Linked DNA regions of Homo sapiens. The protein of the gene in region 4 purifies or fractionates together with the protein of the main gene of each other region. This does not show direct contact. Each region holds a gene or a part of one and is shown on either strand. Other genes may lie near its edges.

What was found.
Region 1: the proteins of NFKB1 (region 4) and SCCPDH purify together in Homo sapiens (affinity purification with mass spectrometry; 2 studies listed by BioGRID and IntAct, with this or other methods). This does not show direct contact.
Region 2: the proteins of NFKB1 (region 4) and PIP purify together in Homo sapiens (co-immunoprecipitation; 2 studies listed by IntAct, with this or other methods). This does not show direct contact.
Region 3: the proteins of NFKB1 (region 4) and ATAD3A purify together in Homo sapiens (affinity purification with mass spectrometry; 2 studies listed by BioGRID and IntAct, with this or other methods). This does not show direct contact.
Region 5: the proteins of NFKB1 (region 4) and LRPPRC purify together in Homo sapiens (affinity purification with mass spectrometry; 3 studies listed by BioGRID and IntAct, with this or other methods). This does not show direct contact.
Region 6: the proteins of NFKB1 (region 4) and COPB2 purify together in Homo sapiens (affinity purification with mass spectrometry; 5 studies listed by BioGRID and IntAct, with this or other methods). This does not show direct contact.
Region 7: the proteins of NFKB1 (region 4) and GTF2I purify together in Homo sapiens (affinity purification with mass spectrometry; 2 studies listed by BioGRID, with this or other methods). This does not show direct contact.

The regions. Positions count from the first base shown.
Region 1 is NC_000001.11:246,734,409-246,737,908, forward strand, and holds part of SCCPDH (saccharopine dehydrogenase-like oxidoreductase), read left to right. Parts: intron 1-1,566; coding exon 1,567-1,647; intron 1,648-3,500.
Region 2 is NC_000007.14:143,137,658-143,140,239, reverse strand, and holds the end of PIP (prolactin-inducible protein precursor), read right to left. Parts: intron 1,166-2,582; coding exon 1,051-1,165; intron 723-1,050; coding exon 598-722; 3' UTR 501-597; downstream 1-500.
Region 3 is NC_000001.11:1,525,662-1,529,161, reverse strand, and holds part of ATAD3A (ATPase family AAA domain-containing protein 3A), read right to left. Parts: intron 2,702-3,500; coding exon 2,631-2,701; intron 2,002-2,630; coding exon of another isoform or gene 1,887-2,001; exon of another isoform or gene 1,480-1,886; intron 1,468-1,479; coding exon 1,300-1,467; intron 1-1,299. UniProt on the Homo sapiens protein: Essential for mitochondrial network organization, mitochondrial metabolism and cell growth at organism and cellular level. May play an important role in mitochondrial protein synthesis. May also participate in mitochondrial DNA replication.
Region 4 is NC_000004.12:102,612,859-102,616,358, reverse strand, and holds part of NFKB1 (nuclear factor NF-kappa-B p105 subunit), read right to left. Parts: intron 2,935-3,500; coding exon 2,778-2,934; intron 2,472-2,777; exon of another isoform or gene 1,388-2,471; intron 1-1,387.
Region 5 is NC_000002.12:43,947,490-43,950,989, forward strand, and holds part of LRPPRC (leucine-rich PPR motif-containing protein, mitochondrial precursor), read right to left. Parts: intron 3,112-3,500; coding exon 3,084-3,111; intron 2,171-3,083; coding exon 2,113-2,170; intron 1,030-2,112; coding exon 923-1,029; intron 711-922; coding exon 633-710; intron 287-632; coding exon 242-286; intron 1-241. UniProt on the Homo sapiens protein: May play a role in RNA metabolism in both nuclei and mitochondria. In the nucleus binds to HNRPA1-associated poly(A) mRNAs and is part of nmRNP complexes at late stages of mRNA maturation which are possibly associated with nuclear mRNA export.
Region 6 is NC_000003.12:139,365,648-139,369,147, forward strand, and holds part of COPB2 (coatomer subunit beta'), read right to left. Parts: intron 2,642-3,500; coding exon 2,498-2,641; intron 1,499-2,497; coding exon 1,368-1,498; intron 1,129-1,367; coding exon 921-1,128; intron 1-920. UniProt on the Homo sapiens protein: The coatomer is a cytosolic protein complex that binds to dilysine motifs and reversibly associates with Golgi non-clathrin-coated vesicles, which further mediate biosynthetic protein transport from the ER, via the Golgi up to the trans Golgi network.
Region 7 is NC_000007.14:74,664,218-74,667,717, reverse strand, and holds part of GTF2I (general transcription factor II-I), read right to left. Parts: intron 1-3,500. UniProt on the Homo sapiens protein: Interacts with the basal transcription machinery by coordinating the formation of a multiprotein complex at the C-FOS promoter, and linking specific signal responsive activator complexes.

The DNA.
Region 1 (3,500 bases), on a different chromosome or scaffold from region 4:
CATATAGTTAGTAGGTGATGGATTCCAGGTGTGAACTTGGGTCTTACTGCCTTGAAATCCTTTGTTCCATGATACCATACTGCCTCAGAAGTAGAGTTCTTCATTAATTTCATGTGGTTTGTTAATGGGAGGGTAGGAACTCGAATTTCACACACTTCTCCCAGTCCTGTAATTCCAGTGTTATCCGCCATTCTTAGTAAGAGGTGTGAGGTCTTGGAGTTAGGTAAGAGGGCAGCCCATCTGACCTATTTGTAAAGGTCGATTGTGTCTTTTAAGTGTCCCTTGTTCCTCAAAGGCTGGAAGAAAGAAACGATTTCCTTGTTCCATCTTTTGCTGCCAGGAATGAATAAAGCAGAGGAGTTTGTGCTTCTAATCTACTTCTTCACAAAGGAAAAGATTTGTCATGCTTCTTTGGAAATGGGACTGAATTCTGATGTATTAGCTTTTACATATGAAAATTTGTATTTTAATTCCTTGAGTTTGAATAACAGATAATATGGGAAATCTAATATCATACAGGCTCAGAATATCTGCTCTGTTCAGTATCAAACTTATCCTTTGCAAACTCTCTTCTTCCTGTTGGTTTGTTTTTAATTTTGACCAATAATACCACTGGTTCTTGGCCCCCATGTCCAGCCCAGCTAGTCAGGAAATCCAGTCATTTCCACCTTTTTAGTATTGTATGTCTCATCTTTAGTATATCGTCTGTGCTATAAGTCTTATACCACTATCCTGTTTAAAATTCTTCTGGAAAGCCAAGTAAACTAGAAAGGATAAAGTTGAAACTTGTTAGCATGGCACATGTGGTCCTTCCTGATGTGGCCGTAGCCTGCCTTTTCAGACCCATCTCTTTCTACTTCCTACTCAAGTGAATTTGATTCCTGCTTCAAGCAACAGGAACAGCTCCTTTTTCTTAACCTCTGCATTTACTTTTTCCTGTATCTGGATTTTTCTTTTTCCTGGAAAATTTTTATTTGTTCTTTAGGGTTCAACTCAAGGGAATCACTTGTATGAAACTTTTCCTTTTGTCTTCAGGTAGAGGTAAGCATACATTGCTCTGTAATTCCATCATGCCTTTATTTATTCACACTGTGAGAGATGGTATTGTGCAGGTATCTTCTCAGTTTATCTTTTTGTTTCTGAGACGGAGTCTCACTCTGTCGCCCAGGCTGGAGTGCAGTGGCACGATCTTGGCTCACTGTAATCTCCACCTTCCAGGTTCAAACCATTCTCCTGCCTCAGCCTCCCGAGTAGCTGGGATTACAGGTGTGTGCCACCACGCCCGGCTAATTTTTGTATTTTTAGTCGAGATGGGGTTTCACCATGTTGGCCAGGCTGGTCTTGAACTCCTGACCTCAAGTGATCTACCTGCCTCGGCCTCCCAAAGTTCTGGGATTACAGGTGTGAGCCACTGTGCCTGGCCACTTTCTGAATTTATCTTTAGGCTATTTTATTAACAGTTGATTTCTTGATAACTAGGACTGTTTACTTCCAGGATTAGATGGCATTTTATTCATTTAAACTTGTCAAGCAAGAATAACCTCTTTGTTCTTTTTGTTTCCCTAGTATCGGTTTTATGGAGAACCTGTAATAAAAGCATGTATTGAAAATGGAGCCAGTTGTATCGACATCAGTGGAGAACCTCAGGTATAAAAAATAAAAAGGAAAAACGTAGAATTAACACATAAATTTCGGTTTAATGAAGTGGAAATATTTAGTGTAATTTTGCAGACATATTTAGAAGCCGACAACTCCTTTCTAGCATTCAGATATGGTATTCGTGTGGTATTCCATTGATAGCTCAAAGGAGAGCGCTGATGGTAAGGTCTTAGCTTCAGTTTTCTGAATTTTTTCCCTCCCTACAACATCATTTCTTATAGGTCTGTGCTTATTATAGCTACTTCATGCTTTAAACTGAATCAATTAAAATAGCGGACTGTGCATAATTCTTAGAATCTCAATTCTGTCATGTTTTCATTTTGAATTCCCTTTTAAAAATCAGGTACCTTTAGGCCGGGCACGGTGGCTCACACCTGCACTCCCAGCACTTTGGGAGGCCAAGGCGGGCAGATCATGAGGTCAGGAGATCGAGACCATCCTGGCCAACACGGTGAAACCCCATGTCTACTAAAAATACAAAAAGTGAGCCGGGCATGGTGGCGGGCACCTGTCATCCCAGCTTCTTGGGAGGCTGAGGTGGGAGAATGGGGTGAACCTAGGAGGTGGAGCTTGCAGTGAGCCGAGATCACTCCACTGCACTCCAGCCTGCGCCACAGAGCGAGAGCGAGACTCTGTCTCAAAAAAAAAAAGAAAATTCAGTTACCTTTATAACATTACAGAAAAATAAAGGTAAAATTCACTAGTGTAAAATCAACCTAAACATTTTAAATGTTCACATTTATTGAATGCTTACCATATGCCCAACATTGTGCTAAGTGTTTTATGTAACTTTTTAAAAATATACCTATAGGGTAGTTATCTTCCTCCATTTTTTGTAGATGAGGAAATTAAAGCTTAGGAAGCTTAAGTAACTCACTCAGTAATGCACCTAGTAATGCACCTAGTAATGCACCTAGTAAGTAGAAGAACTAGGTCTTCAATTGAGGTTTGCCTGACCACAGGAAGTTATGTGTTAACAGGCATTAAGCTCTACTACAGCCTTTAAAATGGTAACCTCATGTGTCTCTGTAGTAACTACTGATTATCATCATCAGCATGCCAATATGATATTAATATGCATTTGCAGTTTATCAATTGGTAAAATACTGGAAAATACTGAGACAGTGTAAATTACAAAAATTGATTCAAAAAGGAGGAAACAAATTAAAAAAAAAAAAAAGCCCAGGCGAGGTGGCTCACGCCTGTTACCCCAGCACTTTGGGAGGCTAGGTGGGAGGATGACTTGAGCTGGTGAGTTAACAAATTAGCCAGGAGTTGGTAGCACACACCTGTGGTCCCACCTACTCAGGAGAATGAGACAGGAATATCACTTGAGCCTGGGAGGTCAAGGCTGCAATGAGCTATGATCATGCCACTGCACTCCAGCCTGGGCAACATAGTGAGACCCTGTCTCCAAAAAACAAAAACAAAAAACAATTCCCATGTTATTTTAAATAACCCAGAACATAGAAAATGGTGAAAAGCTTTTAAGTCATCTAGAAACTATCATAAAAGTAGTATCGAACCCCCCCCTTTTTTTTTGATACAGGGTCTCTCTCTCTCACCCAGGCTGGAGTGCAGTGCTACGATCTTGGCTCACTGTAACCTCTGCCACCTGGGTTCAAGCGATTCTCCTGCCTCAACCTCCTGAGTAGCTGGGGGTACAGGTGCACACCACCACACCTGACTAATTTTTGTATTTTTAGTAGTGACAGGGTTTCACCGTGTTGGCCAGCTTGGTCTTGAACTCCTGGCCTCAAGTGATCCACCTGCATCGGCCTCCCAGAATGCTGGGATTACAGGCATGAGCCACCACGCCCAGCCATAATATCAAAACCTAA
Region 2 (2,582 bases), on a different chromosome or scaffold from region 4:
AGCCCCTCAGGGCTCCCTCTGCCCCTTTACTCCTCTATTATGCCTGAGCTCCTCAGGCAGAGCTGCACAGGACCCTGATATCCCTGAGTGTCACAATCCATTGAAAACAAGCAACAGAATAGCATAGAATGCTACTGCTCATTTAGGGGGCCATGGACTCCATCCCTGACTCTGCTGCATGCAACAGGACTCCTGTCTTCTGGGATCTGAGCTGTTGCTGGAGGGCAGTGGGATGGAGAGAGGTCAAGCAACAGGGAGGCTTGGTGCCTGCCCTGGCTCTGCCACTCCTGTGCCGTGAACTTTAGGGCCACTGCTTTTCCTCTCTGTGAGCATAGCTCCTCTTCCCAGTTTCTTCTTCTCTCCCTCTTCATACCAATGGGCAGTGAGAACCCGTACAATCTCCTCAGTAAAGGTTCTTTGAAAGACAAATGTTCTAGAAATTTCAGGTAATCTGGGGTTCTTCAGGAGCAGATTTTGGAGATACAACAGAACATGGAGAAGCATGTTAAGAAGTTTATTTTATAGACCACAGCAGAAATTCCAGCCAAGTTTCTTTAGAGGAAATCACCTGGGTGTGGCAAACAGACAGGGCTTCCATTATTCTACCTTTAGGATTTCAATAGTATAAAACCGGTTGTTTTTGATGGGGATTACAGCAGCATCATCAGGGCAGATGCCTAATTCCCGAATAACATCAACGACGGCTGCAATTTGCACAGTTCCTGAAAAAGACAGGGACGGAGATCATCTCTCAGACACCCCGGCCATGTCCTGTCTTTTCTACTCATATCAGGCATCTGCCCCCTGGGGTTCAGTTTCCCCAAATCCTTTGCAAATTTGTCTCCTGTATCAACTTTTTGCACTCAATGCCTCTGTCTTAGAACCTGGGTGCTTTCCCCATCTGCTCTCCCCATGCTCTTCCCTCCCTCCCTTCTGTCCTTCTGCCCTGAGGTCCTGGTCCTGCTCGGTTCGCAGCCATGTTTCTGTTTATAGTTTCTCCTCCCTGGTGGCTGGTGGGTAGTTCCCTCCTTGGACAACTTCTGTACTTACTGTTGGTGTAAAAGTCCCAGTAGAAGGTTTTTGGATTGTCGTCACATAGGCAGGCAGTATACTTATAGTTAAATGCACCTTGTAGAGGGATGCTGCTAATGAGGTAAGTTTTAACCTGGTGAGGAGAAGGTGGGAGGGGGAATTCATTGTTATTTTGGGGAATGGGTAAGGGAGGGAAAAATAGGAGAGGGAAAAGCCGGAGGAGAAGAGTGGGGGTGGAGGTGGGCCTAGGGCAAGGGGGAGTCTACTGTTGTAGTATCATTTCAGGAGCCAAAGTCTAGGTCAGAAGGTTTTCCCTTCCAATGCCCTCAAACTCCTGCCTTAGCAGTGTGGAGAAGCTCAGGAGGAGATAGGGATGCAAGTGAATCCACAGGGCAAGGAGAGCTCATCCAGGGCAGCTGTCCAGCTGAGGAGCAGGCTTGCCTTAGTCACCAGCCAGAGGTTTCAGGAATCGACCTGCAATCACGTTTACTCTGAGACCTGGTGAGACAGCAGCCTGGCCACTTGCGTGTAGGAGCCAATGTCAGGCCTTGTTGTCAGAGCTGTGACCAAGCCCCATCTGTGCTCCTCTCTGACTTGGTGACCTTTGGTGATGAGAGGCCTCTCACTCTCACTTTCCTCAGGTATGAGGTGGAAACAATTAACTACCAAACCTGGCTGTTAGATAAGCAAATAACATCTTGAATGTAAATTTCTTTTTAACTTGAGTGCTTTGCAATTCAAGATCCCAGATTATTGTATATATAAATTTCAGTGGAGTCAGAGGATTTTGTCCAGTTAACGTTTAACACAGCAGTTTTATCCTGGGGTCCATAGACCCAGAGGGATCTGTGGATAGCATTCAGTGAGTCTGTGGACTCAGGCAGGGGAAAAATATGCATCTTTATTACTAACCTCTAATTGAAATTCAGCATTCCTTCTGTTATGAATGTCATCAAGGAACCACAGTGCCATTAGCAGTATGTGTGATTTTATCACAAGGAGAAAAGTAGATATGTACATATCATTGCACGGATCCAGAGGTCCGAAATACAGCCTGAATGTACTACCTTGAATGTATGGCAGTTATCAGACTGGCTCATGGTCACGACTGAGGCCCAGTGCCATTCTGCCCACCTCCTGCAGCTTGCTCAGCTACCTGGCAACTCAGCATCAAGTAGCCGTTCAGACCTAAACAGTAAATTCAGGTGTTCTCACCCTTGGAGTTTTACTCAGAATGCCTTGGAGAATCCTGGCGTTTCTTTGGAGAAGACTACCTGTGCCTTGTTTCCCTTTTTTTTTTTTTTCTAAGAGACAGAGTCTCACTCTGTTGCCCAGGCTGGAGTGCAATGGTGCGAACGTGGCTCACTGCAACCTCCGCCTCCCAGGTTCAAGTGATTCTTCTGCCTCAGCCTCCTGAGTAGCTGGGATTACAGGTGCGTGCTACCAGCCCTGGCTAATTTTTGTATTTTTAGTAGAGACAGGGTTTCACCATGTTGGCCAAGCTGGTCTCGAACTCCTGACCTCAGGTGATCTGCCCACTTTGGCCTCCC
Region 3 (3,500 bases), on a different chromosome or scaffold from region 4:
GCCGGAAGACAGGCAGCGAGGCCGACACCCACGCCAAACATCCTCTTTGGAGGGGCTCTCTACTTCTGACAGCCCAGCTCCACATCCTCCCTGCTGCAGGCCAGGCCCGGACTGAGCAGGGAGTGGCTGCAGGGCCTGGAGATGGCCCCAACCACTCCTCACACCAGCCCTGCCCACAGCTGCTCACTCAGCACCCGCAGGGCAGGTGGCCTTTATGCTGGCAGTGGCGGAGCCCCGACTTCTAGCAAAAGCGTCTGCCTGGAGGCCACAGAAGCCAAGTCATGGTGCCAGGGCTACGAGCAGCCATGGGGGTGGGGGAGCCCAGGGAAGGGGAGGGCATAGGGAAACTGAGGCCCGGAAAGCTGGGCTGGCATGGAGCAGGCGGCAGCGGCAACCAGGCTCTCTTTTGTCATCACTGGCGACAGCAGGGATTTGGGTCAGGTGCACAGAAGGACTCAGAAACCGGGGCCCGGGGGACGCCAAGAAGTGGAGCAGCCTCTGCTCATCTGGAGTGTTCCCGAGGCAGCCGGTGTGTGGTGCCAGGGCCCCTCATCACCTGGAGGGCTCTGCCCACCGTGCCTGCTGCACCCACCGCCAGCAACAGGGAGCCTGACAGCCTCAAGGCACGTGAGCAGCAAGAGCCGTGCCCCACACCACGAGGCTCCAGGGCCGGGTGTGGCAGCTGGAGGGAGGCCAGGCCAGAAGCCAGCAGTGGACCATGAGGAGCCTCTCCCTCCAGTCCCGACACGGGGGTCTCATGAGGAGAGACTCCTTCGAATCCCGACACGGGGGTCTCAGAGCAACACTCCGTATCACCTCCCCTCACAGCCAGGGCCTGGGGGTGGCCGAGCACAAGATTTCCTCACAGCCCTCCTCGTAGTGAAGAGGAATGGAAAAGACGCCGGGCGCGGTGGCTCACATCTGTAATCCCTGCACTTTGGGAGGCTGAGGAGAGTGAATCACTTGAGGTCAGGAGTTTGAGACGAACCTGGCCAACATGGTAAAACCCCATTTCTACTAAAAATTAAAAAAAAATTAGCCAGGCATGGTGGTGGGCGCCTGTAATCTCAGCTACTCAGGAGGCTGAGGCAAGAGGATTGTTTGAACCCGGGAGGCAGAGGTTGCAGTCAGCTGAGATCGTGTCACTGCACTCCAGCCTGGGCGACAAGAATGAGACTTTGTCTCAAAAAAAAAAAAAAAAAAGGAATGTTAAAGGTTTGTAAGTGATGGTGGACTGTGGGTCGGGGTGGACCCTGAGCGAGGGCCCCTGGACGGGGGCTGGTGGGGCGGGACACTTACTGCTTTCCTTCTGTGGCCGGCTTAAGAACATACTTGTCAAAATACATTCTCACCAGGCGCTCCCGTTCCTCCTGCCCTGGCAGGTCGAAGTGGACCATCTCATTGATGCGGTCATTGATGGCCCAGTCGAACTGCTCTGGTTGGTTGCTGGCCAGGACCAGCATGAACCTGCGGGGCGGGGATGAGGATGAGGATGCTGGGGCTGCCGGCCGAGCTGCACCAAGGGGAACGGGGCCTCCTCAGCCCCCACAGGGAGAACCTAAAGTGGCGGGAAACACGAGGACACGGGCACAGCCCTGGTCGGCCACCTGCCCCACTGCACCCAGCTGTCCCCCGGCCTGGCTTCCTGGGCCTCTGTTCTCCCTCCATATAGTGCTTTCCCGCTGACCCTCGCCCAGCCTGATAGGCAGTGCCGGGAACACCACTCTCTCCTGCTGCCTGACCCCTGCTGTGCTGGGAGCAGGGATTCGGGACCCGGAGTCCATGTCGAGAAGTCGCCCACACGTGCCAGGAGCAGGACCTCAGGGGCCCGGGTTCACTGGAGGCTCAGCAGGGCCCCAGCCTTGCCTCTCTGGGAAGGACCCGAGTCAGGGCTCCAGGGAGCATCCACCGGCAGCAGCTGACCTGGGAGCCCAACGTGCCTGAGGAGTCAGCCACGGCCGACCAGCAGGACTTGATCCTCCGTGTGACACGTGACTGGGGCTGGAGGGGCCCAGGAGACCAAGAAAACTCAAAATTAGGGGACTTGGGAGGGACTAGGGAGCCTGGCCATGGGGCGGTCACCCTATGGGGGACCTCTGGGCGGCAGCCCACAGAGGCCACACAAAGTCGGGTGGGCCCCAAGCCTGGAGGGTGCACCCTTGGCCAGCATCCGGGCGGGGGACCAAGGTCCCAGGTTCCGCCCCGACACACAGGACCTGCTGGTGTCCAACTTCCCGTGGGAGCAAACTTGTCTCCATCTCCCACCCCAGGGCACACACACCCTCCAAGGGAGACCCAGCAGAGCCTCACACGATGAGACCACCTCCCTTGCAGGCACAGGACCGCAGAAACCTAGGGGCAGAGGGACCTGCAAGCTGGGGCGGCGGCGCACAGGGCCGTGAGGACAGGACTGACCCCAGCTCTGCCCGGGAGGCCCCCGCATGTTCCTCAGTGACACCCCGTGCTGTCCCGAGCTGGGCCGTTCCCAGGGGACATCCGAGGTGGGCATGTTGAGGCCACGGCAGCTGCCCAGCACTGTGAGCCAGGGCCCCTCAGGTCCCTCGGTGGGAACCAAGGGCGACGGCTGCACAGCCCTGCCCGGGGGCCCAGGACCCGAGGGGCTCCCTCACTTGTTGCTGTGCTGGCCCGTGCGGTACAGGAAGGCGTTCAGTGTGGCCCTGAGGTCCTCGCTTATCTTCTCCTGCAGAGAGAAGGTTCCAGCCTTAGGCACCAGGAGCAAAGCCTTGTAAACAGCCACAGCAGAAAGTCCCACAGGCCTCCCTCCTGCAGGGAGCAGGGACATGGCGACACTTTCATGGATCTACTCTCAAAAGCCTGACCAGGGCCAGGGGCGGTGGCTCACGAATGTAACCTGGATTTTGGGAGGCTGAGGCGGGCAGATCACACGAGGTAAGGAGTTTGAGACCATCCTGGCCAACATGGTGAGACCCCGTCTCTACTAAAAATACAAAAATTAGCCAGGCGTGGTGGCGCACCTGTAGTCCCAGCTACGTGGGAGGCTGAGGCACGAGAATCACTGAAACCTGGGAGGCAGAGGTTGTAGTGAGCTGAAATTGCACCGCTGCACTCCAGCGTGGGCAACAGAGTAAAATTCTGCCTTAAAAAAAAAAAAAAGAAAAAGAAAAGAAAGCCTGACCGGGCACGGGGGCTCACATCTGTAATCCCAGCACTTCAGAACGTCAAGGGAGGCAAATCTCTTTAGCTCAGAAGTTTGAGCCCAGTCTGGGCAACGTGAGGAAACTCCATCTCTACTAAAATTACAAAAAAATTAGACAGGTATTCCACTGTGCCCCTGCAGTCCCAGCTACTCAGGCGGCTGAGGCAGGAGGATTGCTTGAGCTCCAGAGGTCGAGGCAACAGTGAGCTGTGATCGCCCCTGCACTCCAGCCTGGGCGACAGAGACCCTGTCTTAGAATGATAATTAAAAGGCTGGGCGTGGTGGCTCACGCCTGTAATCCCAGCACTTTGGGAGGCCAAGG
Region 4 (3,500 bases):
TCTTGCCCACTGGCTTCTGCCAGCCACACATCCCACCTATGCCACCCTCACTGTCATGACTGCTCACCGTGGTGGGAAGGGCAGAAGATACTTGGGACATACTGTGAGGATGTTATTAGCCAAATGTCAGAATTAGCCAAATGCTTTCACATCTTCCTGCAATCTAGTCTTGTGTTTATGAGAATCCTTTCTGAATTCTCTTGACTCACAGTGGACCTTTTTTTCCCTTAGAAATCAAGTGTAGTTTTCCAACCACTGTATTATCTATTTCATAGCTGGGGAAACTGCTGAACCTCAGCAAAATAAATTGGTGACAGAAGCAAGAACTAAAAATGAGATCTCTCTCTGGGCCTCATATGCTATTACAGCATACATTGCCTTGAAAACATTTTTGGTAGCAATAAAAGTAAAATGATTTTGGTGAAAATGAGTCTATACTGGAAAATCAGGTTGAATTCCCTTTGTTTATAAGTGTCCTTAGGGATATGACCAAGACAAATTATTTCCTATACAGTGAGGAAGGAAACAGAAGTCTAACATACACTAATCAAAATGCTATCTTCTTATGTACCAAATTCCAATATTAGAATATTAAGACTTTAATGCCAGTGGCACGACTATCATTTTGGTATTGACTGATTTGTTTAATCAACCAATCTTTATTTGGTGTCTATTATGGGTTACAAACTATGCGATATCCTAAAAATAACTACAAATTAAGGGCTTAATGCTTAGGTATTTACTTTTTAAAAAAATGTTAAGTATTTGCTTTTTTTCTTTTTTAATATCTGTGCAGAAGGAGCACTGGGCTGTGACTCAGGAGATCTGGGTTGTTTTCCGGCGGATACATTATTCCTTTCTCAAGTGCGGACAATGACGTCTGCCCTTGCTCCCCTGGGAAGGCCCCCTGGCAGGGTGAGATGGGTGCTGAAACTGAGTGGCAAGAAAGAGCCAGCCAATTAAGAGCTTTCCAGGGAATGGGAAGAAACAGTCAAAAGGTTGGTCAGACTAGTGAGCCAGGGGAGCAGAGAAAACACTTGGGAATGGAGGCGCAGTGTGGAGGAAGAGCTTCCACAGCAATGTTTAAGAAAGCAAACGAGTAAAGCAGGGACACAGTTTTATCTTTAAAACCTCGAACACTGCTAGGCACACAGTGTATGCTGGATCAGGATTTGCTGAATGAATGACTGAATGAACTGAAGGGCATAACCCAGAATTAATACAATGTCACTGATTTTTTAGAAGAATCATACCGTCTGTTGGGCAGAGAATGGACTGAAGGGAGGTGGACAGGAAGGAAACAAGGGGACTGAGTAGGAGCCGTGCAAGAATTTGGGCAGGAAATGACGGCAGGCTGGCCTGGGGCGGTGGTTGCAGACAGGATGACACTCGATGCGTCGCATACGAAGTGATTAGTGGCAGAAAGGACTCCTGAGGAATTCTTGGGTTTTGTCTTAATCTCCTGGAAGATGGCAGCGCTTCTGACAGATGTAGCCAGTATTGGGCTTGGGTGAGGTACCAAGCAGGGAGGGTTTAGGACTGACCCTGGAGGGCTGTGACTTTAAAAGGTGAGTGTAGAAGAGCCAGCCAGGGGAGTGTGCTGTGGAGGAGCCAGGAATGGAGACGGTCTGAAGTTGAAGGTAGGCGTCAACCATGACACACTCTGCAAGTGGTCAAGGTGAAAAGGAGGTGACCAGATCTGGCAATGTGGAGGTGACCGGTCACTGTGAGGACAGCAGGCCTGGTGGAGCGGTGGGGATGCGATCCCAACTGCAGGAGGCCAAGCAGAGGGTGGAAGGTGGCAAGCTGGAAAGAATAACTCTAAAAAATTCTTTGAAGGAGCTCTGCTATGTATGGGAATAGAGCAATTGGACTGTAGCTAAATGGGATGTGGGATCAAGAGGGTGATTGTTTCGGTGTGTTTTGTTTTTAAAGATGAGGAAATCATGAAATGCTTGCTAGGTGACCTAGTCGGAGAGTGGGGAGGAGGAACGGCTAGTACAGGAGAGAGAGGTAAGAATTAACAGGAACAACAACCTAGTAAAGGTGAGGGGGTTAGACTCAGGGGAGAGGTGGCTCCTCAGCTGGGCAAAGAAATTTAACCCACCAAGTCCGGATGGAAGGCTGCCAATGTGGGCACAGGCACAGGTGGGCTGGCACTTGGTGCAAAGGTGAGAGGGTTCTGGTTTCTTCTGTTTTCAACAGAGTGTGAAGCAAGGGTGTTGCATGAGTAAGGGGAGGGAAGGAGTGTTGGGGGTTTAGAAATAGAAAGCATGGAATCATCATTTACAGAGTGGGAGAATAAAATTGTAGGAAATATAGGATTACTGGGCTGGGTTGAGAGTCCATTTCATATGGTTGCGAGACTTTTGGTGGCATGACACGTAGTCCCATATATGGTGGGGGACAAGGTCAGTGTCATAAGCTTGAGAGAGGAGGCAAAGGAAGAAGGAGATGGTTCTCTCTTTAAGGTAAATATTATTTCTCTCATGTGTTAAATTTAATCACCCACATCATGTTGTTTTTAGTATTTATTGTATTATTTAGTGTTTACTAAGTAGTTCATGTGTCAATGTGATTTTCCAAGGGTACGACCCCCTCATCTGAATGGTACTATCAAGAGAGGCAGAGGGTGAGCCCAGGGGGTAGAGAGACACACAGGGAAGTGTATCCAGAAAACGAGAAAGAAAACTGCCACACCATATCCAAAAAGAGCTGAAGACACCAGCCTGGGGGAGCTGGAAAATATCTCCACTGTCTTTTGTCTTTTTTTTTACCTATTTGCTGCCTTGTGGAGGCAGGCGAGAGAGGCAGCGAGTGGGCCTGAGAGGTGGTCTTCACTGGGCTGGAGGCTGCCTGGATCACTTCAATTGCTTCGGTGTAGCCCATTTGTCTCAGGGCCTCCACCAGCTCTCTGACTGTACCCCCAGAGACCTGTGAGAAAGAAAGGAAGGAGGAGCATGTTCTTGTGTTCGAGTCCCAGTGCAGGCTGTAAGCACTGACAGCCCACCCTTCCCTCTTCCATGCTGCCTCCTCCACTCAGGAGCCAGGAGGAAATGGAAAGGGCAGAGAAGAGCGACTAAGAAAATACAGTCTTCGAATCAAGTTTCCTGTTTCGGCTCAAAGACCACTCAGGAAATCACAGAGAAGTGGTTTGTAGTAAGCAGAGAGAGAGACAGCGAGAGAAGCGCTGAGGCAGTGAAACTCTGCCTACAGTGACGTCTACACAGTCTCCCTCTGTAAGCTGAAGCTCTGAAATCCATGCAGAAACAAAAGCTAACCATGAAATTTTCAACAGAAAACTTCACCCCATGCTTTTCTACATTTTATTTTTAGAAATGAAAAAAAAAAATCCCCGGGTAATGGCTCCACTAGGAGTCACCTCACAGAACATGACTCAATGCCCTGCCATGGGGTAAGGTGTGTTCTTGGGGACAGGAAGCTACACGTTGATTACAGTCGATTGTTTGCTCAGGGCCGTTAAAGTTCTGTGAAAATCC
Region 5 (3,500 bases), on a different chromosome or scaffold from region 4:
CAGGGATATTAATTGGGGAATCCATGGATGGACTCCAGGGATTTACAAACCTTCTGAGATTATATGCAAATTTCTTAGATATGTTGATTTTTCTGAGGTGGGGAACAGGTTTTACCAACTTCTTAGAGGTATACAAGATGATAAAAATGTGAGGAATCACTGGTTTTATAAGTACACAATCCAGAATACTCATTAAATATGGGTATTATAGCATGTAGAATCTAGTCAAAATCCTACTTACTTTTTGAAAGTCTAAATTCTTACTCTCAACCAACAAGTGAGCATCCTAAAATTGAAATTTAAATTAGCCCAGAATTAGAAAACACACGTAAAAATACATCAGCAAACATCAAAAGCAAATTTGTAAGTCTCACCTCATATTACTACTTTTCATCTTTCCAAAATTTTAGACATTCTCTTCATACTTTATTAATCAATGTAATTAACGTTATAAATATATTTATGAATATATAAATAGTATTTATGAACAATCAATGAAAAGCTTCGTTTTAATGGCTGTCATTGAAACAAATTTTTTTTCTGACCAAAAGCATCATATTTAAATAAAATTTTAACATGCTGTTATATGTAAGTTAAGCATTTTATCCAGTTGATTGCTATTTCACACACACCTTAATCAATTCAGGAACATGGTAGCTTTCCAGGAGATTACGAATGCCTCTGTAGATATTTTCAGGAATTTTTACATTCTGTGAGAAGGGAAGGGAGGGGGGAAAAAACCTGAGTTTTAGACAACCAAACTGAAATTTGTCTAACAGAAATTATCTCAGACATAATTTAAGTCTCCAACTCTTGCATGTCATTGAGAAGTGGTCTGGTTGTACTTAAAAGCAGCAATTTCAAATCTAATAGATACATGTCAGGCAGGACAGGCATTATATAGCAAAAAACGAAATGGTACCATCTTCTCCAGCTGATGGAAGTATTGTCTCAAATGCTCCTCCTTGGCCTGTACCTCTGAGTCACTCATGCTGTCAATCAAGTTATAAAGAAAATAGCCAACAGCTTCTGTGGAAAAAAACAAGAGAAAGCATTCCACTAAAATTACCGAGACTGTCATGTTATCAAGATTAATTTATAAGAAATCATTTTGGTGTGAGATGTCACCCTGATGAGAGGCTCTGAAATGGCAACAATGATCACTGAGGCATAGAGATTATGTGGTTTGGGAGCACATATCTAACTGGTGAGTGAAAGGAATATTAATTATTTTCAGACCGAGTGACAGCTTTTCAGTACTGAATCTTACTTCAATCTATTTTTTTTCCACCACTCTGTGACAGAAGTGGTCCTGCCCAAGGCCTTACCCCTTTCCTGTCCAAATCACACGTAATAAGAATAAATAAATGTCTTGTACACATTTCTATACTGTTTTTTTTTTGTGGACAATATTTAGGGAAGCACATAAAATTAGAAAGGATTGTTAAATGTTGAGTAAAGAAAGTTAAACAATTTTAATAAGCAGATACAGTAATCCTGTGGAGAGCTGCCTATTAGCCAATGAAAAACCAAGATTAACAAAGATGTTTTGTAACAACAGTAATTTTCCTTTGCATTCAAGCATAAAATGTATAGGGCCATGTTACAGTAATACCTAGGATAGAAATGTAAACTTTCAAGAGGGGTACCATCTTACAGAAAACTATATAGTCTAGCTTCATTATATGAAAAATGAAAATCATTAAATGTCAAAACAATGTATTTGGGGCAATAAATTACATTTAAGCGGAAATCCACAAGAACCTTCGCTACATTTTATGTTTAAAATTAACTACACCTGCAAAACATTAAAAGCACATAAATACTAAGAATCACTGATTTTTAAGCCTATTTCCATAGATGTTAGAAGAAACATTTCCCCAATATCTGAAAAGAAAAAGCCTCCCAACCCTGTCTTTAGAAAAAATAATTGTAACAAAATCAAACACTTTAGATCTCAAAATGTTGTAATCAATATAAAGATTTATAACCAAATGTTTTCAAATTCCACTTTAAAAAATAAAGTATTTACTGCTGTAATCCTCCTAACCCATCATTACACAGAAAAATGGATTTGTGGATAAGTTACAATCATCGAAATTGAAACGCTACCCGTCGGTCCTCGAGGCTCCTGGCAATAACGTCCATCCTTGTACAACAATTCTGTTATCTGGTAAGACAGAAAATTCGTGCATTGCAGCAAGAGAAGCAAACAAGAACAAACACAATCTGAAATTGAATTCTTGAAATAATAAAACCTCTCCCCAGTAAGGTACTATTCTATTTCACAGTAATTCAAAACCACCCCCACCCGCCAAGGAGATTGTTTTGTTTTTAAATAATAGGTTTGTCTTTTAAAAACAAAAACAAATCCATGTTGAAGGAAAACTGCAATGTTTTGTGAAATGTCACACAGAAAGACTCTAAACTGATTTATAAATTGATATATAAACATCACTCTGAATGAACTGTTATAAATAGAAAAGAGCTTATAGGAATTATTGACCAATATTATTCCTCATTATATTGCTTTTGGTCTTGTTGACACTGAACTGGTTTCCTCATTTTATATTAAGTTTTACTGAAATATAAAGTAAAATATCCTGAACTGCTAAATAACTTACATTTTTTAGATATTTAATAACAACTTCCATTCATCTTAATGAGACTAAAACAAAAGGGGTCTAAAGATTAAAGTGTCTATTCTCATGGATTCTTTTTTTTTTAATTTCCAACTTTTATTTTAAGTTCAGGGGTACATGTGCAGGATGTGCAGGTTTGTTACATCGGTAAACGTGTGCCATGGTGGTCGGCTGCACAGATCATCCCATCACCCAGGTATTAAGCCCAGCATCCATTAGCTATTCTTCCTGATCCTCTCCCTCCTCCCATTGGATTCTTATCAATTGGATTCACAAACACTAAAAGACACACATAACTATTATTTTTCAACATTAACTCTGCCAGCAAAATTTTAGTAGAAAACCAAATATAGGTTTCATGATAAAAATTATTACATAACCTATGGTATTGGCTTGTAACGTTAAAAGCACCTTATGATTTGCAATATTAGAGGGACTTACCTCGCTCCAAAGATTTATATTCATAGACCTGCAGAGGGCAGCAAAGGATCGAAAATAAACCCAGGTTTATTTTCAAGTATATGCATACTTGTAATATGTACAGATCAAAGTATTAAAATTAATAAGTAAATAAATGTTTGCTGTATCAGGATGAATTTTCAGGACAAAGGTAATTTAGAAAGGCTGACACTCACCCACCTCAAATATTCAAAATAGGCCAGGCCTGGTGGCTCACATCTGCAATCCCAGCACTTTGGGAGGCCAAGGCAGGTGGATCACCTGAGGTCAGGAGTTTGAGACCAGCCTGGCCAACATGGTGAAATCCCGTCTCCACTAGAAGTAGAAAAATTAGCCGGGAGTGTTGGTGTATGCCTGTAATCCAGGCTACTCGGGAGGCTGAGGCAGGAGAATTGCCTG
Region 6 (3,500 bases), on a different chromosome or scaffold from region 4:
CAGTGCAGTCTGAAGGAGACTAAGCAAACTGAAAGGAGATCTTCAGGAACTCTGGAGAACCAGCAAAGTCCAGGGAGAATTAACCACAGGTACATAGAAAATTAAGCAAAGGGGGGAAAAAGACAATTATAAACTAGGGAAAACAAACAATTGCAGGAAAGGAAAGCTAGATAATATGCTACATGTTCACCTGTGAGCAGTGATTACATAGCCATAATAATGTAAACATTTGAGTAGTGATCAATCAAAATTAGAACTATTCTGAGAGATAAAGGATAGGAAAGTGGCATGTATGTGGTAGACGCAGGGGAATGAAAGAAGGCGAAATTCTCATCTTCTACAGAGGGGGAAGTCACAAGAAATGCCTAAAGCTAAGAAATGAAGAAACTGCTATACCTCAAGTTATTTAGAGATATGGAAATAAATACCAAAAGAATTAGATAAAATAATTACCTCTAGGGAGTAGAAAGCAAAAAGGAGGGCTGATTTTTTTCTTAAGCTTTGCAAAACTTACTTTATGCTTTGCACATATGTAACTTTGCTTAAAAAACATTACATAAGAAAAAGTCATGTCATGGTACATTTTATATGTATTTTAATCATTTTTTTTTAAAAAGCAGATGGGATAAAGCTAAAAATGCAGTGTAGAAATGAAAATATCAGGAGACTGGAAAATAAGTGCACAGAAAAGGAAGACTGAAAATCACCTCCAACATTTAAAGGGGGCACTGAGAAAGGAGAAGGAAGAGTGTAAGAAGGGTGTATCATGTGCTGTAATAAGTGCCTTAAACTCACAGGAGAAATTCTATTGCCACAGGAAATCAGTTGGCAATTAAGAAATAAAGTTTTTCAACTCCATAATAATTTGCTTTCAAATTGCAAGTTTTAAAAAACAAAAAGAAAAAAACAAAACCTCTTACCTGCTTTTCCAAAAAGTGTGCAACTCTGGTCCTCTGTTCTTTTGGAATGGTAGGAAGGACCTTATCAGCCATGCTAAAGTCCCTCCGCATGACAGCTGTCTGGTATTCCAGGACTGAAACCAGCAGGGAATAGCTAATGATGTTCAATTCTTTATCCCCCAGATAAAGCCTGTTGTCTTTAGGAATGTAGCCTAGGAGATACATCGTCCTATAAAAGAAACAGAAACCAAGTTAGAAATTCAAATCTGCAATTACACAAACACACACCCCGCCAATCTCCCTCTTGCTCAAAACCTTCCCATTTGATTGACACAATTCTGGTTAACAATAGGCAACCTACTAAAACTATAACACTGAAAAATCAGCCTATCATTGCTACAAGCCAGCAACAGATTTTTCTAAACACACTTTAAAATTTAGGACAAATGCAAAATGATACTCAGGTACCTGTCCAAGTGGGCAATGGTGACTATTTCTCCTCCAACATAATAATTTAATCTGTTCACAGAACTTGTGTAAATGAAGCAATCGCCTACCCAAAGCCCTGTTTTCACAATTTCCTGAATCTCACCAAGAACCTGCAGAAAGAAAAATAAAGACAATTACTTTATCCAACATCAGAAATCTCTCAATAAAAAGCTGAATATATCTGAGGGTGATATGGCAGAATAAGGAATGCAAAGTAAAATCCTTCCTATTTCTAGAAAAAAAAAATTTTCCTTGGAATTTTTTTTTTTTTTTGAGATGAAGTCTCTGTTGCCCAGGCTGTAGTACAGTGGCGTAACCTCTGCTCACTGCCAACTTCTACCTCCCGGATTCAAGTGATTCTCCTGCCTCAGCCTCCCAAGTATCTGGGATTACAGGCGCCCGCCACCATGCCTGGCTAATTCTTATGTTTTTCGTAGAGACAGGGTTTCACCATGCTGGCCAGGCTGGTCTTAGACTCCTGACCTCAAGTGATCTGCCCACCTCGGCCTCCCAAAGTGCTGGGATTATAGGTGTGAGCCACTGCACCCCGCTGGAATTTCTTTCTTCATTTAAGAACAGATTCCTACTCAATATAACCCTTAGGCTCAAAACAGAAAAAAAAACAAAACAAAACACAGAACAGATTCCTAGATTAGTATTTGTAATGTGAAATCTCATTGTTGGGTCAAAATCATGATATAAAAGAATACTGATCTAAACTTAGACCCTTCATAACATGACAATGAAATATTAAGTATTTCACAAAATCTAGGACATCTGCACAATAAATGATTTACCATTTGGGAGCTTATTTAAATCACTGACTAAATAGTCTTAGGACCAAAACAACTATAATTTCTTTACTGAAAGATATCAAAGTAAGTCTAAAGAATTCTTAAAATCAAAGTACAAATTTCTTTTAAACATATTTATTTTAAATTTTGATCTATGAGTTACGATTTTAATTTTTCACATTTCACCAGAAATCCTTAAATGCTGTCTCCCTACACCTAATTTATAACGAAATGTTAAAATCAGTAAAGTCTGTTGTAAGAATATAAATCATTTAAAAACAAAGCTGAAAGCGAAAGTTGTGCTGATGCAATTACCTCAAAGGCATCTTCAATGCCATCTTCAGTAACTCCCTCATGTGTTTCCTGTGCAGCCAAGACTTTTTCTGACAGATACTTAAGGATAAAAAATGATTCCTCAGTAGCAATACAGACTAGCTCTCCAGAGTCAGACCAGAAAATCTGCAACACAACAAAATCATAGACAACTGATTTGGATTTCTGAGTGGATATGACAAACTGCACATACTTGGTTTCTTACAACATTTACCTTCTTATATCAAGATGATAAGTATTCACTTAACAATTTTATGTGGCATTATTTGGGAGGGTGGCCAGCTATTATGTGGCTATGCTATTTAGCCTAGCAATGGAAAGACCAAAGGGAGACAGGAAAGGAGAGCTGTCAGTAAACACTGAATGTGCTACACAGAGGACCAGTAGCCTATTCCCTCTTGCTCTAGAACAGTGTTTATCACCTTTTTTATTTTTTTCATTTTCACCCACCCTCCCTAGAAGTCTTTCTGGACATTTTTCTAATCACCTCCCCCAATGAAATTTTAATACCACAGATATACATATATAATGCATATACATATGTATAGCTATGCTTTATTCATAAAGAGTAAGCCCCCAAGTCAATGTTTACACCCACTGAGGATGCGTGCTCTAGAACCAGACCCCAGAAAAGCTGGTTTGTTTCCAAAGATAATCTCCTGACAGTGAAAACTGTCAAAGCAGCGGGCAGTTCTAAAGGTAAACACTTTGTCACTGGAGATGGTCACCTCAAGTTCAAGCAGCTATCATCAAAATGTATGAAAAGGTTTTCTGAACTATGTGGAAGAAGGCATTTCCAAGTCAAGAATTCTCTGACTTCTTGTTCTCAAAGCATGCTTTTTTCCTGTCAAAATGGCACTGCCACTTACCTCCAATTGCTCAGAAAATCAGGATTGTTGTATCCTAATGAGGCCGTAGACAATGTGTATTTCAAAAGTATAAGAAGTTATTTAAATTCTAAGTGCTGTTTTATATTTTAAATGGC
Region 7 (3,500 bases), on a different chromosome or scaffold from region 4:
AGTGAGACCCCCATCTCCACAAAAAATAAAAAAATCAAGCCAGACGTGGTGGCATGCACCTGTAGTCCCAGCTACTCGGGAGACTGAGGTGGGAGGATGTCTTGACCCTAGGACACGAAGGTTACAGTGAGCCAAAAGCATACCACTGCACTCCAGCCTGGGCAACAGAGTGACATCCCGTCCCTCCCCCCACAAAAAAAGGTTAAAATGGTAATTTTTGTGTTAAGTATATGTTACCACAATTTAACAACAACGACAACAACAAAAAACACTACAAGGAACCACTCCAAAGAAAGGCATTCACGGTGTAAATGGCAGACACAAATTTATTCTTCATAAAGGAACAAATTCATCTTACAGGATTTTCTTTTTTTTGAGATGGTGTCTTGCTCTGTCGCCTAGGCTGGAGAGCAGTGGCAAGATCTCGGTACACTGTAACCTCCACCTCCCGGGTTCAAGTGATTCTCATGCCTCAGCCACTCAAGCAGCTGGCATTACAGGCACCTGTCACCACTCCCAGCTAACTTCTGTATTTTCAGTAGAGATGTGTTTTTTTGTTTGTTTGTTTTCCTTGAGACATAGTCTTGTTCTATGGCCCAGGCTGGAGTGGAATGGCGTGATCTTGGCTCACTGCAACCTCCGCCTCCAGGGTTCAAGTGATTCTCCTGCCTCAGCCTCCCGAGTGTCTGGGATTACAGGTGCGCACCACCACGCCTAGCTAATTTGTTTTTGTTTTTTGAGACAGAGTGTCACACTGTCACCCAGGCTGGAGTGCAGTGGTGCGATCTCAGCTCACTGCAAGCTCCGCCTGCCGGTTTCACACCATTCTCCTGCCTCAGCCTCCTGAGTAGCTGGGACTACAGGCACCCGCCATCACGCCTGGCTAATTTTTTTTTTTTTTTTTTTGTATTTTTAGTAGAGACAGGGTTTCACCATGTTAGCCATGATGGTCTCGATCTCCTGACCTCGTGATCCACCCGCCTTGGACTCCCAAAGTGCTGGGATTACAGGTGTGAGCCACCGTGCCCGGCCAATTTTTTGTATTTTTAGTAGAGACGGGGTTTCACCATGTTGGCCAGGCTGGTCTCAAACTCCTGACCTCAAGTGAGTCATGGCCTCCCAAAGTGCTGGGAGTACAGGAGTGAGCCACCACACCCAGCCAAAAAAAATTTTTTTTAATGCTTACCGGGGGGGAAAACGAAGAAAGAAAACGAACAGGAGGAAGGAGTAACACTAATGAATCTTGCAGGGTCTATTTCTCTGCCCTTTCCTCATATGGACATAATACATGCCATCGTCCTCCTCTGTCAAATTATCTCACAGATGAGATCATGTAATTTAAGTGCATTAAAGTCTAATGCCAAAGCCAGTTACTAATTTTAGTTCACTTCCAATACCTTATTTATTTTCTTGAAACCAATTACGGTCTGAAAACTCAATCTAGATAAAATTCTACTCACGTCATGTATGTGTTATAGTCAACAGTAAGAGCTAAATTTCTAGATATAACAAATTAAAATGAACAACATATAAAGCATACATTCTCAGGTTTCATCAATCCAACTGTCAAGCTCTGGCCAGGCGCGGTGGATCACGTCTGTAATCCCAGCACTTTGGGAGGCTGAGATGGGCAGATCACCTGAGGTCAGGGGTTCCAGACCAGCCTGGCCAACATATAGTAAAACCCCTTCTCTACTAAAAAATACAAAAATTAGCTGGGCATGGTGGCGCACGCCTGTAGTCCCAGCTACTTGGGAAGCTAAGACAGGAGAATCACTTGAACCCGGGAGGCAGAGGTGAAGGTTGCAATGAGCTGGGATCCCGCCACTGCACTCCAGCCTGGGTGACAGAGGGAGACTCCATCTCAACAAAACAAAACATAAAAACAATGTAACAGTCACAGGGGAAAATCCCACAGAGGAATAAGTCCTTGCCCTTGCAATTCATATTCTCCAGAGTTCTTGGAGATTAACGTCATAGTCGATATTACTAGTAAAATTTTCGCTTCCTCAATTTCCCAAAAGTCTTTATAATAGTACTTTTATGACTAATATTTCTTGAGTGTCTACTACATGCCAGACAGCAACCTAAGCACTTAAACTCTATCCTTGCAACAGCTCTTAGAAGCGAAACATGTTCTATTATCAACTCCATTTTTAAAAATAGGGGCCAGGCGTGGTGGCTCAGGCCTGTAATCCCAGCCTTTGAGAGGCTGAGGTGGGCGGACCATCTGAGGTCAAGAGTTGGAGACCAGCCTGGCCAACATGGTGAAACCCTGTCTCTGCTAAAAATACAAAAATTAGCCAGGTGTGGTGGCGCATGCCTATAATTCCAGCTACTCGGGAGGCTGAGGCACAAGAATCACTCGAACCCGAGAGGCAGGGGTTGTAGTGAGCTGAGATCATGCCACTGCATTCCAGCCTGGGTAACAGAGCAAGACACTGTCTCAAAAAATAAAAATAAAAATAAAAAATAGGCCGGGCACTGTTGGCTCACACCTGTAATCCCAGCACTTTGGGAGGCCGAGGCGGGTGGATCACCTGAGGTCAGGAGTTCGAGACCAGCCTGACCAAAATGGAGAAACCCCGTCTCTACTAAAAATACAAAATTAGCCAGGCGTGGTGGTGGCACATACCTGTAATCCCAGCTACTCAGGAGGCTGAGGCAGGAAAATCGCTTGAACCCAGTAGGCGGAGATTGCGGTGAGCCAGGCGCGCCACTACACTCCAGCCTGGGCAACAAGAGCAAAACTCTGTCTCAAAAAAAAAAAACAAAAAATAGGGAAACATACAAAGATGAAGTGAAATGCCCAAGGTCGCACAGGCAGGAAACGGCAAGGGCCAGGACTGGAATCCAGGCAGTCAGACTTCAAACTTGTGTCGCTAGCCATAAGCTATAAACCCTCTCTCAATTTATAAATTTGTCTTCCCTCTCATGATATATTTTTTAAGTAACTAGTTCTTTAAAAATCCTACATAGAGTGTTGGCCAGGCGTGGTGGCTCATGCCTGTAATCCCAGCACTTTGGGAGGCTGAGGCAGGTGGATCATTTGAGGTCAGCAGTTTGAGACCAGCCTGGCCAACATGGTGAAACCTGTATCTACTAAAAATACAAAAATTAGCCGGGCATGGTGGCACACACCTGTAATCCCAGCTACTCAGGAGACTGAGGCAGGAGAATCGCTTGAACCTGGGAGGCGAGAGTTGCAGTGAGCCGAGATCGCGCCATTGCACTTTAGCCTGTGCGACAGAGGGAGACTCCTTCTCAAAAAAACAAAAACAGAAACAAGTTACAACCAAAGGAGAATGAGTCAATCCTCCAACAACTCTGACAGTTCCTGGCTATACTGAACTTTCTCTTACTTTCTCAGTAGGCCAAAGTGGTAAAAAGCAAATGAGTACTGCCAGAAACAGGCATGGAATACCAAAACAAGAATTTTACAGAGGAGAAAACAAACAGGAAGACAGCAGGGAGAGTTCCAGAACAAAAGGACAACAGTA